Linked DNA regions of Homo sapiens: region 2 is linked to region 1. A link means that fine-mapping ties the variant in region 1 to the expression of a gene that starts in the linked region. Tissue or cell type: whole blood. Region 1 holds a variant in brackets; the other region holds the start of a gene. All regions are shown on one strand. Distances are between the middles of the regions.

Evidence for each region. PIP is the estimated chance that this variant, and not a neighbour inherited with it, causes the effect.
Region 2: it holds the start of TMEM65, and the variant in region 1 is fine-mapped to the expression of TMEM65 in whole blood (TOPMed, PIP above 0.99).

Annotation. Positions count from the first base shown.
Region 1 is chr8:124,286,271-124,294,378 of GRCh38, forward strand. It overlaps the pseudogene LOC112268031. Among named protein-coding and RNA genes, the nearest start is that of TMEM65, 82 kb to the right of the region's middle. The variant C/T (reference allele first, on the strand shown) is at 3,929.
Region 2 is chr8:124,367,971-124,376,078 of GRCh38, forward strand. TMEM65 (transmembrane protein 65) reads right to left here and starts at 4,731. Exons shown (of 7, transcript NM_194291.3): 1 at 3,884-4,731. The coding sequence starts at 4,187. RefSeq lists silencers at 3,754-3,803, 3,814-3,943, 3,994-4,123, 4,254-4,523, 4,644-4,873 and enhancers at 4,598-4,892, 5,104-5,293.

The sequences.
Region 1 (8,108 bases):
ACAATCATTCCATTTTCTCACAGTTCTGGAATCTGGTTTGGGGCTCAACTGAGCAGTTCTTCTGCTGGTCTTTACAGTGGTCACTTTTGTGGCTGCATTTAGCTACAGGAAAGCTGGGCCTGGGGTCAGCTATTGTTTTCAGCCAATTTGATCTCTCCCTCCTCCCCTACCCTCCTCTCTCTCCTCTCTCCTCTCCTCTATCTCTCTCTCTCTCTCATTCCATGTAATCTCAGGGCTTCTCCTCATGTGGATTTGCCATGTGATCTCTTCAGTGGCAACCAAACTTCTTACATGGCAGCTTAAGATTCCCAAGAGTACAAAAGAAGAGGTCATTAGGACTTCTTAAGACTGAGGCCTGCAATGAGCATAGTACCACTTCTGCCACGATCTAAAGAAAATCATCCTCAGCACAGATTCAAAAAGAAGGAACTACACAAGGGAGCCCCCAAACTCAGAACTTGCCCTAGATGGTCCTGCGTGTGTGGTTATTAAACTACCAAAATGGGCCAGGTGCGGTGGCTCACGCCTGTAATCCCAGCACTTTGTGAGGCCGAGTCGGGCGGATCACCTGAGGTCAGGAGTTCGAGACCAACCTGGGCAACATGATGAAACCCAGTCTCTACTAAAAATACAAAAATTAGCCTGGCATGGTGGTGGGTGCCTGAAATCCCAGCTACTCTGGAGGCTGAGGCAGGAGAATTGCCTGAACCTGGGAGGCAGAGGCTGCAGTGAGCAGAGATCATGCCACTGCACTCCAGCCTGGGTGACCAAGCAAGACTCCATCTCAAAATAATAATAATAATAATAATAATAATAATAATAATAATAATAAAAAAACACAAAATCAAATAAAATACTATAATGTTTAAGGCTCCACATTTACATTTTGTATCCCGTACCTGTGTCTGCGTCCCAACAAAACTATTTTAAATCATTCATAAATTATTTTCGGAAGGGGTGAATATCTTTACTCCTGGACCTAGGTGTCACTGTTTTCTACCCTTATCTGTAGAAGGGGAGAGTTTCCACTCAGCTACTTCAGCGGGTGGGTTGTGAAACTAAAACGAGATCCTTTGCATGAAGATGCTTTGCGAACCAAGATACATGTTGAGCATCATCAAGATCTCAAGATCACAGTCCCTCCTGGTCTGCGGAGGTCCCAAGAGTACTGAAAGTGGCCTGACTGCTCTACACACTCAGAACTTCCCATGGGATTGAGCAATGGAAACTACCATTCAAATTTCATTGCCGGCTTGTAACAGAGTAATTTACCAATGGACAGACTCAAAATTTTATAAGTTTTCTCTCTCTCTCTCTCTCTCTCTCTCTGTGTGTGTGTGTGTGTGTGCACGCGCATATGTGTGTGGTGTATACTTTTCTTTCTTATAACATCTCCTTCTTTCTGGCTTTTCCATCTTTCCTTTTCTATTATCCAGTCTTTCCTTGGAGCTCCGACTACAAGAGTCCCGTTTTTCCAGATTCGTCTCAGCCTGGTATCTTTCACCTGCAGCACTACTTCTGCAGCATCTGGGTGCTATCAATTTTGATATATATTTTTTTTTCTTCAGCTTCAGTAAAATTTTGAAAAATCTACTAAAAAAAAAGAACTCTAGAGGGCAGAGAAAAATGAGCTATTCTTATTTACAGTGAAATCCATCACTGGAACTGCTGTCTGGGGTTAATAAAAAGACTTCTGGAAGACAAGGCATTTAACTATTCCCACAGCAACAAGGGAATCAGGCCTTTCTCTGTGACCCAATAGTTGTTTATGGAAGTACCAACTCCCAGGCAAATAACATAAAATTTAGAGACCAAAGACCTCGGTGTTAAAGAACCATCTCTGTCATTCATTGTGATCTTGAAGTTCTCAGAATTCAAGCTCCCTGCCTAGGAAACCTCTGGATGAATCATCAGAGACCTCTGGATGAATTATGATCACTGTTTCTGAACAGATGCTGAGGGTTACGGGTGACAGTACCAGAGGTGAAGGGTCAAGCAGGGCACACACACAGCAGGCCCTTCTGGAACATTGACAGGGAGGGGAGAAATTCAGAGAAAAGACCCATCGCAGGTATGTGAGCCCTGTTGCCCATTGCATTCAAACAGCACAGAAGAATCTAGCAGGGCCAAACGTCAAGCATTGGAAGAGAAACCTCAGTCTTTTGGCTGTAGGGCTTTAAAAAAAAAAATTTGCATGATTGAGAGAGTATAAGCTGCTCCCATGGTGTGATCAAGGGCTGGGGTCCAAACCCATGGTCCCAGCAATATGATGTGGCAGAACCTTGGCCTCCATTTTTGGGTCATCACCTCAGCACTTAGCAGTTGGCAAAATCAAAAGGCTGGGGTCAAGCTTTGGGGGCTGCAGCTGCATAACAACGTAGAACCTCCATATGCAGCCCAGGTCTATGGTCTACTAACTCAGTATTTTAGGTTGGGTGAGCATCAATCCAACCAAACCGCCACTTCAGAATTCTACCATAAGTTGGGTTGATTGTCTTAAACTCACAGCAGTAGCTGGTTTCTGTGGAGTGTTTCAGGGGCCAGCCTGTGAGGAACCAGACTTGGATAAATTAGCCCTTACTTTTCAGTGGGGTAATAAAGAATACTACTTTTTCCCATTTGAGTTCTGAACTTTTTGAGAAAATAAATAAGCCAGGTAGTTGAAGATAAAAATAACAGCCTTACAGCTGATAAAGGTAGGGGTGGAAATATGGCTGAGGTATGCCGCAACGATGGGCTTCCTAATTTTGCACCCCAGAACTAGGCCAAGCTACCAAATGTCAGGAATCTTTTGTAAAGCATGGGTCTCCCTCTGCAAGAATAAAATGTTTCCTAATACAATTATTAATGGCCAATTTCTCTGTAGGGAGGCTGATTGCAAAGGAGACCTAGCCAGTGCCAAGTTTCCCACCTCACCCCACAACACAACCATCATAAATAAAATGTGGTAGATATAGAGGTGGTAGATATAGACAACCCAGGGAAGGGGAGGAGTCAGGCCAGGGGCTGAGAAAGGCTAAGGCTACAGTCAACAGCCTATCAGAAAAAGGTGCCGGGATATCAAGTATCTCCTCTTAACCAATTCTGAGGAAGCCAGCGGATATTAGTCAGTCCTGTTTCACATGAGAAAAGAGCTGTGTCTGAAGTTTTCCATCAAATGAAAGCCCCCATTTTTTACCCTATGGATGTTTAGTGTTATTGTAATGTATGAATATATGTATGTATTTATTTATTTATTTTGAGGTAGAGTCTCACTCTGTCACCCGGGCTGGAGTGCAGTGGCGCGATCTCAGCTCACTGCAACCTCCACCTCCTGGGTTCAAACGATTCTCCTGATTCAGCCTCCCAAGTAGCAGGGACCACACGTGTGTGCCTGACTAGTTTTTTGTATTTTCAGTAGAGACCGGTTTTTGCCATGTTGGCCAGGCTGGTCTCGAACTCCTGGACTTAAGTGATTCTCCTGCCTCAACCTCTCAAAGTTCTGGAATTACAGGTGTGAGCCATGCGCCCGGCCTGTTCAGTGTTATTATAAGATAACAGCTGTTCCAATGACAAAGCCACTTCCCATGCAAAGTTTCATTCAATCTTAAAGCAAATCTGAGATCATAATAATGTGTAGTACTCATTTTTCATATGAGCTAAATGACTTGCCTAGGATCTCACAAGACCTAAGACTTAGATTTAAATATTATTTCAATAATCCCACAGGAGTTTCATAAGACTTTATCAGCTTCTCATAACACAAGAAAATATTGGGAGGATCCAAATCATTGCATTTCAGTATATTCATTTTAGGAGTAGCAGTGGCACAAATAACTTTAAAATTTGTTTTTTAGCTGGGCGTGGTGGCTTACACTTGTAATCCCAACACCTTGGGAGGTTGAGGTGGAAGGATTGCTTGAGGACAAGAGTTTGAGGCCAGCCTGGG[C/T]GACATAGTGAGACTTCATCACTACAAAAAAAAAAAAAAAAAAAAAGCTAGGCACAGTGGTACATCCCTATAGTCCCAACTACTGGAGAGGCTGAGGCAGGATGATAGCTTGAGCCCAGGAATTTGAGGTTGCAGTGAGCCCTGATCACACTTAACTTTCATCAGAAATGTGTCTGACAGACTGAAAATTCAATACTTAAAATAATTAAGTGACACAATAAATGCCGAAAGGGAAAGTGGAATGTTTTCACTTTCCCACTATTTTTCAGGTCAAAACATGTACAGGTTCCAATTTTTTTTTCGAATATTTTACAACCAAATTGAAGGGAGGAGAAAGACTGTTAAAAACTGGTGTCTTTTTTTTTTTTTTCTGAGATGGAGTCTCACTCAGTGACCCCAAGCTAGACTACAGTGGCGTGATTTCAGCTCACTGCAACTTCTGCATCCTGGGTTCAAGTGATTCTCCTGCCTCAGCCTCCAGAGTAGCTGGTATTACAGGCACGCACCACCACACCCAGCTAATTTTTGTATTTTTAGTAGTGACCATGTTTCACCATGTTGGCCAGGCTGGTCTTGAACTCCTGACCTCAAGTGATCCACCTGCCTCGGACTCCCAAAGTGCTGGGATTACAGGTGTGAGCCACCGTGCCTGGCCCAAAAAAAAAACTTGTATTTTTACTACAATAATTTACTGAGCACCTTCTACATGTCAAGGATTTTACCAGGCACTAAACACATAGAATTTCAATCCTTATAACCCTACAACAGAGGTCACCATTTTATAAATTTTATTGTCCCCATTTTATAAACAGGGGCACTTGAGCTCAGAGAAGTTAATTCTCTTGTGTAAGTTCCCACCCCCGGGAATTGAATAACCTGGACTTGTTTGATTCCAAATGACAAATACTATTAACATAGCTGTGGAAAAGCAAAAGCCTTCAGCTGTGAAATTGCTGTATATTAATATCTTCTTACGTGACTGGTGGCTAGGCTTATCAGCAGCAACCATTCCCCTCAGAGACTCAAGGCACAAAAAGAACCCTGAAGAATCGTGAATAGTTTAAATCTACTCATTTATCTTTAATGAGTTTACAACTCTCTCATCAAGACTTCAGAAGTTCAAAATTGATAATGATCCTAATTTTTAAAACCACATAGAAAGAGGAATAATCTATAGTATTGTATTATGACAAATACCAAAGACACAACAAATGAATTAGAAATAGCCTTTGCATTCTAGGAGCTCAATGTTGAGGCATGGCACAACTGAGGTAAAACAGAGTGTTCATGGTATCCACAGGGAGCCACGAAATCATGGAGAATTTAATTCACTAATTTAAACCGAACTGATGTCTTGCCCTCTAAGATTGCTACTTGCACTTTTCCTCAACTGGAATAATTCAACGTTTTTATTTTAAAAGGTTGCATTTACATTAAGTCTTACTGCAGAGTAAAGATTAACTAATATGAATACTAGCAAAGTGACTTATTGCCCAATACGTTGAATTATGTAAAAACAAAAAAGTATAACATAATGCTTTACTAGAACTTGGCAGCAACACTGTGAACTTTGTGGGTCACTCAGAATCCCAGAATCCTGGAGCTTGCAGAATACCCAAAAGACTGCAAATCTGGCCGGGCGGTGGCTCATGCCTGCAATCCCAGCACTTTGGGAGGCTGAGGCAGACGGACCACTTGAGGTGAGGAGTTCAAAACCAGCCTGGCCAACATGGTGAAACCCTGTTTCTACTAAAAATACAAAAAATTAGCAGGCGTGGTGGCAGTCGCCTGTAATCCCAGCTACCGGGGAGGCTGATTCAGGAGAATCGCTTGAACCCAGGAAGCGGAGGTGGCAGTGATCGTGTCACTACACTCCAGCCTTGGTGACAAGAGCGAGATCTTATTCCAAAAAATAAATAAATAAATAAAATAAAAAATAAATAGACTGCAAATCTCTCCGATACCATAAGAGTCTCAAGAGAAAGAATTGGATCTCATGATTCTGTTGACTCACCTTCCTCATAATTTGGTTCATTGTTGGACACCAAATACATCATGGGGAAAGTACATGAAGAAAATACTTATTTTGAATTGCATTTTGAATTTCTAAATTTTGCAGAGACAAAGAGAAAGGCTGAATCTCAGTCAGTTAAACTATTTATTAGCTGTCTGAGTGGGAAGAATATTGCAGGAAGATATAATTACAAAACCTGATATAGCCAGGATTCAGCTTAGAGCTTTCAGCCTGTTTATAAAATATGCCAAATATGAGATGGCAGGCAAAGGGTAATGTGTTAATAGCAGATAGGCAAAACACTGGCTGCAATTTCAGGAAAAGACTAAACAGAACAGCTCTACAACATACTTTGTCTCTTGGAATCTAACTGCTTAGAAAGGCCTAGAAATAAATAAGGAAAGTTTATTTTAGGCATCTTCAGCATTGTCCCTCTAAAATCTTTTATTTCATACACTGGGAAATATAAATACTAAAAGCATGGTACCAACCACCAGAATGTTTACTCTGTGAATTTAAAACCCCTAAATTATCCACCCCTCCCTTCAATTGCCTAACATAATACCACCCCAGAGTTGCAAAATTTGAAGAAGGGGAAAAAAAGCCTAAAATTTGGAATCAAAAGAGCTGTATTTAAATAAAGCTCTAGCTACTTAAGCAGCTACTCAACTCTTCTTATCTGTTGCCTTTACCTATTTGGCTATAAAAATGTTATTATTAAGATATTCTGGGCTGGGCGCAGTGGCTCACGCCTGTAATCCCAGCACTTTGGGAGGCAGAGGCGGGCAAATCACTTGAGGTCAGGAGTTTGAGACCAGCCTGGCCAACATGTTGAAACCCCATCTCTACTAAAAATACAAAATTAGCTGGGCACGGTGGTGTGTGCCTGTAGTCCCAGATACCTGGGAGGCTGAGGCAGGAGAATCGCTTGAACCCGGGAGGCGGAGGTTGCAGTGAGCCAAGAGCACGCCACTGCACTCCAGCCTGGGCAACAGAGTGAGACTACATCTCAAAAAAAAAAAAAAGATACTCTGATGGCTCATCAATATTTGCCCTTTGCTTTTGCCTGCTTTGGAGATCATGATTTTAAATTATTTGGAATATATCTTTTCTCCCCTACCTCTACAACGATGCGTCTTCGTCTTCAACCCTGTTTTGTTTTGTTTTTTTTTTTTTTTTTGCCCTTACCTTTTACTTGTCTTGTCATCCGGAAAAATTCAACACTTATTGCATAGCGTGCAACATCTGTGATCGTTGCAAAGGGAAATACAAAGGTAAATAAGATCTAATTTCTGCCTTCAAGGAACTTATGATTTAATAGAAGGGATACAGGTACCAAAAATGCCTATAAGGCATAACCTGGAAGGGCAAATCATTATATTAATGATCTCCGTGTCCATGTCCCTTTACAATATGGCATAGTCATTTCTCACATCAGAAAGGTGGCATCAATTTCTCCATCCCCTTGAATTTGGGCTGTTTTTTAAAACTTGTTTTGATAAAGGGTCAAAGGTGGCAGGAGTGACAGTGCAATATCTAGGACCCGGGCAACCCATGAGACCTCATGGCTTCTGCATTTATTCATTAGGTACCCGACTGCCACATGAAGATTCAGTTAAGTACACAATACAGTGTTGTTAACTATATGCACGATGTTGTACAGTAGATCTCTAGGATTTATTCACCTTGCATAAGTGAAACTATGTACCCTTGGATCAACATCTCTCTGATTCACCCTCCCCCAAACCTTGGTAATCACCATTCAAGTCTCTGCTTCTGCTTCTACGAGTTTGATTATTTTAGATTCCTAAATGGAATAATTGAGTAGTTCTTCCGTGTTTGACTTTTATTTCCCCCACTTTGGAGACAGAGTCTCACTCTGTTGCCCAGGCTGGAGTGCAGTGGTGCAATCTCGGCTCACTGCAACCTCTGCCTCCCGGGTTCAAGCAATTCTCCTGCCTCAGCCTCCCAAGTAACTGGGATTTCAGGCACCCGCCACCATGCCCAGCTACTTTTTTGTATTTTTAGTAAAGGCGGGGCTTCACCATGTTGGCCAGGCTGGTCTCGAACTCCTGACCTCAAGTGATCCTGCCTCGGCCTCCCGAAGTGCTGGGATTACAGGCATGAGCCACCGCACTTGGCCTGGCTTATTTCATTTAGCATGTC
Region 2 (8,108 bases), 82 kb after region 1:
TACATATTATAACAAAAATATTCCCTAAGAGGCTCCCTTTTTCAAAACATATCTCTCATTGTACCTCTCCAATAGCCAGTTCTTGTCTCTCTGTGTAAACTCTCTGATGAGCATTAATTACACCACCTTAAATAATGTGGAAGCCAACCTCAAAGATGTACCCCCGATGATTCCCACTCCCTTGTATTCACACCTTGTGTAGTACTCTCCCACAATGTGTCAGGACAAAAGAGATGGACTGTCACTTCGAAGACTGCGTTTTAAAAGTCTGTGGCTTATAGTATACATATTATAACAAAAATATTCCCTAAGAGGCTCCTTTTTTCAAAACATATCTCTCATTTTACCTCTCCAATAGCCAGTTCTTGTCTCTCTGTGTAACTCTCTGATGAGCATTAATTACACCACCTTAAATAAGTGTGGAAGCCAGCCTCAAAGATGTACCCCCGATGATTCCCACTCCCTTGTATTCACACCTTCTGTAGTACTCTCCCACAATGTGTCAGGACAAAAGAGATGGACTGTCACTACTAAGACTGTGTTATAAAAGTCTGTGGCTTCCAGCTTAGGTGCCCACAGGTGCTGTCTTGCAAACACACTCGCTCTCTCTTGCTCTCTCGCTCTCTCATCACTTGCTCTAGAGGAAACCCACTGCCATGTCATGAGAATACTCAGGCAGCCCTGTGGAGGACCACATGGGAGGGAATTGAGACATCCAGCCAACAGCCATGTGAGTGAGACTTCTTGGAAATGGATCCTCCAGCCCCAGTTAAGACTTCAGATGATGCCACCCCAGCTGAGAGCTTGATTTCAACTTCTTAAGATCCTGGGCCAGAAATACTCAACTAAGATGCTATAGCATTCCTGAGCCTCAGAAATTATGAGTTAATACATGCTTGTTTTAAGCCACTGTGTTTTAGGATAATTTGTTATACCGCAATGGATAACTAATACAATGAGCACTGTCTATTTTTCAATACCAAATTGCTATATTTTAAAAGCTTTAAAAAATAATTATAAATGGAAATATTAATTACAAAAATTGGGAAGAAAATTTGTTTTAAAAATTTTGGCTAACATTGAAAGGCCACTGTAATAATGTCAGCTTGCCAGTACTACTTGTAAAAACATGAATAATGCTCTATCAGCAGAATATGGTCTGTTTCTGGAAGAAGAGAGATCAGGCTGAGCAGGTAAATTGAAGGCGCAAACTCAACTTTTTTTTAAATTGGGAAAGAAATTGGTTTGTAATTTTAAAAATCACAATATTCTATTTAACTATGATAAGATATCCCACAAGGTCTGCCTTATCTATTACGAACTGATTCCAAAGCTTTATCTCATCACAGATTATATCACATGCCTACTGATAAACATATAAGAAAGATAAGGGCAAATGTGCCAAATTTCAACAGCAGATTCCACTGCCATATCAAAGCATGGATGATATTTTTTCAGTAACATTTCCATACCAAATCCAAAACACTTCATTAGTTTATACAAGCACCCTTTCCAAAGACACACAAGATTGCCTATGGCAAGAAATAGCCCTTTAAATAGAATTAATTTTGTTAGAAAGTACACTTAGTACACACACACAATACATCGGTTGAGTACTTCAAAACATTATTCAAAAAGCAACAATAAAAGAAAACATGGGAGTTTTTCATTTATCTGGCTGGAAAAAAATTGTTGATTTCAGCAATGGAATGAGCTGTACGCATTCCCAACATAATAAAATCCCTTTTACCTTAATGATTAATGAATAAGGTAATTTCCTAAGTGATGATTCTAGTTATCTCCATAACTATATGTATTGATACTGAAAACAGTAAGTGAACACCAAGACTACATACACTAACAAAGCAGCAGCATCTGTGTCATTTGATTCATAGGACAATCATTTTGTCATCGACATCAGCAAAAATAGCTGATTTAAACTTTGATGTTCTTTAGCATATAAAGAGGAGAGATAAGCATCTGACTAACCATTGTTTCAAATATCCTTGACTGTTTCTCCTGAGCAAAGAAGACAATTTAAATTACTAATTTCTCTCTCATATTAGTAACATAACTAAGTTTAATTGATGCTAATGATCTCCATTGACTAAAGTGCTTAGGTCCTTTTCAGAATATTTAAAACCACGTTAAATTTAAAAATATTATCTTTATTAGGAAATGTAGCATTGCTACTGCAATACTGCTGGCATGTAAAAAATAATAATGTATGAGAAAAAAATTATTCAGTCACCTTGCAGGACATGTTTTTCAAGAACTGCCACAAAACTATATTCATAGGGCCCTCCAATCTTGTAACTTGTTGACAATGCAGAATTTCCAAGAAATTACTTGGAAAAGGTAAAATGTGTGTTCAAATAGTCTTGTCAGTGCAGAAAGATTCAAAAGTTAATGTTCTAGTACATGACTGACTATATTATTTTTCCAAGGAGCATATTTTCAGAATTGACTATTTTTAAACTGCATACTGAGTGCACACATAGATTACAAATGTGCTAGTGTTTCATTATGATTGCATATAACATCATGATTACACATTGAATAACGGAATTGATCGGACGTTACATTTTCCTGTAAAAGCACTGTGGGTAAACAATGTCTGGAATCAATCATCCACTATAAATTGGTCCACAATTTCCTGAACTGAGGGGGAAAACATCTGATTAAAAGCCACAACTAAAACAAGTTTCTGAAGTAGTACAGATAACGTCCTGCTTACATGAGGTAGATAATTCTTTCCTCCATTCCTGCACATCAGCTAAAGATATACTTTCAAGTCTGGCAAATCAAATGGCATGATCCGAATCAATGTGCTCTACACTTTGGAATCTATGAGATGTTTATGTACCTACCAAGTTTAGAGAGGAGAGTAAACTTTTTTAAAACTTTCAAACACATCAGAATGTAATACAAACTGAAGCAATGTGTTTTGTTTACATAACTGTATTTAAGTGGCAGAAATATTTTAAGACATCCATTTTAGTCGTTTGCTCCTTTCATCCTTTTTATTTTCTGAACTTTTAGCTTTTTCACCTAGACTCAAATTCTGCCCTACCCCATTCTGGACTCCTTTTAGAAATATCCTATTTTAACATGCTAGTTTAAAAATCGTTTTGCTTTCATCATTCCCAATTACTTTTGAGCATCAGTCTGACTTTTACTACAGAGCCACAGATTTCCAAAAAATATACCTCCTTATTTATTTCATTCTTTCAACCTCTGGGAAAAACCAAAACTGGAGTTTAACTTGAATCTGTCTTTCCATTTCTGGAGAAAATGTTTCCTTTGGCTGCTGAAATTAACGCAATCAGACATGTGTGGAAACAAGCAGCTATGAGCATCCCTGACTTTCGAAGCTACACCCCTTCTTTTGGCTACCCACCCATACGTCTTCATTTGATAACCGTTCAAAAAGTTTCTTCCTGCCAGGCGGGTTTGCAGCACTTTCTCGGAGCAGGCACAGCATGCCACCTGCACGGGTGCACGCTCGCAAGAAAGCAGCAAGGGCTAAGGGACAGGAGGGCTGGGGAGGGGAGGCACGGGGCAAATCAAAACTCAATCCCAACAGCGTTAACTGGCATTTTAGGCCGAAGCTCCGGATTCGGAGGCTGGGGAGGAAGTAGCTAGCGCTGGCCTCGGCTGCCTGGCACGACCCGCGCCCGTCCTACCTGCCTGGGGGAAACTCGGGCGGCGGAAAGTCTCCCCGCCCCCAGCCGTCCCAGGCGTGGGGCCAGACAGGCGAGGGGGGCGGAAGGGGGGCGGCGGCGGGGGTCCAAGATCCAGGGCCGCAGCGGGCTCCCGGTGGGCTGGCGAGAAGAGGAGGGCGTCGGGGCCCCCGGGCTCGCCCCCCACCTGCCCCCCTTACCTTGGGCAATGGCAATAGACTCGAAGCGGTGCAGCTCTTTGAGCAGGCAGCTCCTCTCCGTGGAGTGCAGGCTGTAGATGAAGTCGCGCGCGCCCTGCGCCGTGTTCAGCGCCTCCATGGGCTCCTTCTTGGGGTGCGTGCCCAGCCGCCTGGGGCCGCCCGGCAAGCCGCCGGGGGGCGCGAGCGCCAGCAGCCCCCGCCCGCAGCAGCACCAGGACGGCGGGCGGGGCGCGGCGGCGGCGGCCGGGCCCGGCCTCAGGCTGCGCGCGGTCCGGCTCCTCAGCAGCGGCAGCAGCCGGGACATGGCGAGCTGAGGAGCTGGGACCCCCGCGGCCGTCCGGCAAGGCGGTTTCTGGCGCGGCTGAGGCGAGAAGGAGCTGGGCTCAGCTCGACCCCGCCCCGAGGTCCTCCTGCCAGGCAGCCGAGGCGCCGGGCACCATGCACTCCGCGGGCCCGCGCGGCTCTCGCCTCCTGTTCCGTCCCCACTTCCTTTCCAAAAGGCCCGCGGCGGCTCCCGCCCCTCCGATGGGAAAAACTTTCTCTGAGACGGCCGGGCCCGGACAGCGCCCGGAGAGGGCGGGCGGTCGGTGCGGGCGGGCGCCTCCCGGCTGAGGAGGAGCGGCGCGGGCGGGCGGGGCGGGCTAGTGTGTGTCTCTGTCAGTCTGATCTTCCAGAGGATGAGTCAGCCACGCACCGCCCTCCTCCAGCGCCGCCCTACTCTCCCGCCAGCTTTCTCACCCTCTAGCCTCCCCACGTCCCCACTCTGTAAGGTTCCCGAGCCCTCAAAGCAGCCGCGCTCCCGAGCCGCAGCCGCCGCCGCCGCCGCTACCCCTAGCGGCAGCAGAAGTGGGAACGGGGCGGGGCGAAAGGGGAAGGAGGTGCGGGGGGGCGGGGAGGTGTGTGAGCGAGGCTGCGCAGGCGCAGTCTGCAGGCTCTCGGGCCGCCCTCCCTCCTAGGGGAGGAGCGTGCACACGCGTCCCCTCCCGCGCTGGTGCGTGAAGGTGGAAGGAGGTAGGGTGCGCCACCCTGTGCTGGCGTTAAACCTACAGATCGGAATAGGGAAAACGAGCTCTGGACCCCTCGCCCGCCAGGGTAGTACAGCTGCCACCCGGCCCCCAACCTGGGGCCACATCTGGAGCTTGTTCTGAAAGGTGCCCCGGCGTGCGGCCCCGCTCTGGACAGGCGGAGAGCTGCGCTGCCACCCCAGCCCCGACGGGATCACGGCGCTCTGCTCCGGAACGAAGCGCCCCAGCTGCGCCCTTCGCCAAGTCAGCGCCCACCGCCGCTTCGGCCGAGCAGGCCGGCTCTAATGCAGTCGCTCTGGGCGCCCCAAAGAGAAAGCGAAGCCAGTTCCACCCCTGCCCAAGGAGGGTCTGAGACTGAGCCCTTGACACGAGAACAGTCCTCCCCGTTCAGATTCCAGCAGCTGGCATGCAAATTGTTAATGCTAGAGGCAGAGGCAAGAATGTCATAGACCTTTCCTAGTGGTTGCTTGTGATTTTTTTGTCTCTGTGCTAAAGCGGGAAGAATAATTTGATTGTCCACGATTTCCCCTGATCCAGGTCCTAGGCATCTTTCAAGGCCCAGGTGAAAGGTCTCCTACTTCATTAAGCTGTCCCTAATCTCTTCTAAGGGAGGAGATCTCTGCTTTATCTGAACCTGTCTAATGACGCTTAGGCACCCTTAGAGAATAAATCCACTTAATAAATCTGCTGGAGCGTAATCAAGATCTAAATCCCATCCTTATCATAAACAGTGCTGCACTCAGCCCGGAAACTTGTAGGTAGTAAATGTGCTACATGTAAGTAGAATATTAAACTGAATAATGGAGGATTGTTACCACTAAAGCCTCCTACTTCTCTAACTCTGGTTCTCAAAGTGTGTCCCAGAGCTTTTTAGACGTGAGAAATAGTGGACCCCACTTCACACCTCCTGAATCAGAACGTAGACATTGGACCCAGTCATGTGGGTTTTAACAAGCCCTCCAGTAATAACACACACGAAAGCTTGAGAAACACTGATGTCTCTTAAACATTGAAAGGAATCGCTTCTTTTTTAAATTCCAAGGTGATGCCTCTGTGATGTAATAACAACAATTAAGAATGCTCTCTGTGGAAATGAAAGCTTTTTGAGTGCATAAAGTATATCTTCCTTGTCTTTGAAACCCCCTTCATTCCCTAGTGTGCACTGGAATCCTCTGCAGAGCTATTTCAGTCTCAGGCTCATGGGAGTACCACCCCATCCCCCCCACAATTTCCTACCCCCAAGATATTCTGATTCACTGGGGTGGATCACAGGCCCCAGACCTGGGAAGTGAGGTTTGAAAAAAGTTCTTCAGTAAGAACCCATTCCCAACCACCTCCAGAATAGTAGTTTAGTGTGTAGCCTCCAGAGACAGACTGTGGAAAGTTCGATCCCTGGATCAACCGTCTCCTAACTATGTGTTAGTATTAGATTGTTATAGTAGTGATCCCCAATGAACTACACCTTCTATTATCCGCTCCGTTGTGTGGTCCACCTCTACATTGACTGTGGGCTTGGCTATTTGACTTGTTTTGGTCAATAAATAGGAGGACATCATAAACGTGATATGATACATGTTTGCTCATTGGGGTTTGCTGTAATGCTTTTGCTATATTACTATAGAATATTTAATTCTATTATAAAACAAGAGAAACTAAAATGTAGAAGCAAGTCACTTATGAGAAAGGTTACACATAGAATGAATGGATATGGGTTGAACATAGATAAAAAGGATGGAACAAATGAAAATGCTGCTTTAGATAGAGGCAGAAAGACAAAGTGGACTTTTAAGTATTAATAAGGTACAGATCATACTATCTTCAGATTTACAGCCATGTCATCCCTAAATTGCATACCTACTGGTAACACCCATTGTAACGCTATTATGGCCTCATGTAATCTCTTCCCAAGAAAAGCAGATAAACCCCCAGCTACAAAGCCAACTAATGCCAGCTACCATTATAACCAGACACACTTGCCCCTCAGCTCTGTAACAGAACAGACATATGTTGAGCCCAGGCCCCTTCAGTCTGTTGAGTCACCTTACTTACTCTCCAGTCTGGTCCTTGTAGCCACACTATGTGCTGAGAAGACTGGATGGTGGAGAGGGATAAGACATGAGAACATTGCATAAAACAGAATTTAGGTGCTATGGTCCTTCAGCCTATCCTAAGCTTATTAATCTACCCTATCTCTTTCCCCTTGCTTCTCACTCTGTTTTATGTTGGTTGGTAAACTCTTCTGGTTATTATTGCTGCTCTTTGGGTAGACACATTATGCCAAAACTTAGTAGTTTAATTAGCCAATTTATTTTGCTCTTAATTTTGAGGCTCAGAAATTGGGGAAGAACTTACTTGGACAGTTATTTTATTGGAGTCGTTTATGTAGTATCAATCAGATTTCAACACAACTGCTGTCATTTGAAAGTTCAGCTGGGCTGAATAGCTAAGATGGCTCACTGACATGGCTGACTGGTAGCTCAAATGGGGCTGAGAACCAGAGCACTTTCACACAGCCACTCCAGCATGGTGATCTTCTCACCAGACAGCTGGCTTTCCCCAGAGTGAATGTCTAAAAAGAAGCAGGCTTGTGGCGTTTTCTGACCTATCCTTGGAAGTCACACAGTATCACTTCCACTGTATTCTACTGGCTATAAGCCAACCCCTAGGGCCAGCCCCTATTCAAGGGAAAGGGATATAAACCCCACATCTTAATAGGAGTAATGCCAAAACCTTTGAGGATACGTTTTAGAACCACCAGATAATGTGATTTAAGCTTCTTAATTTGGCCTATAAGCCTATCTATTTCGTGACCTGTAGGTGTATACATGGAGGCTGCCATTGCATCAAGGTAATTTTCCACATGGAAAAATTGCCTCGAAGACATTTACCTTTTGGAATCCAGCTGCTGCATAAAGAAGTCTGATGTATCCTGCTGGAAAGACCAAATGGAGGAGGAGGCCGTAGCCAACAGCCCCAGCTAACTGCCAAACATGCATGACAGCATCTTGGACCATCCAGGCTCAATTGAGCCCCAGATGACAGCATTGGGGTTGAGAGCACTAGCTCTAGACTCAGACTGCCTGGATTTGAGTCCTTATACTGTCATTTCTTAGCTGTGTAACCTTGAGCTGATCAACCTTTCCGTGGTTGCCCATCTGTTTAATGGGAATAAGAACATGTTCAGTTTGCTCACCTGTTAA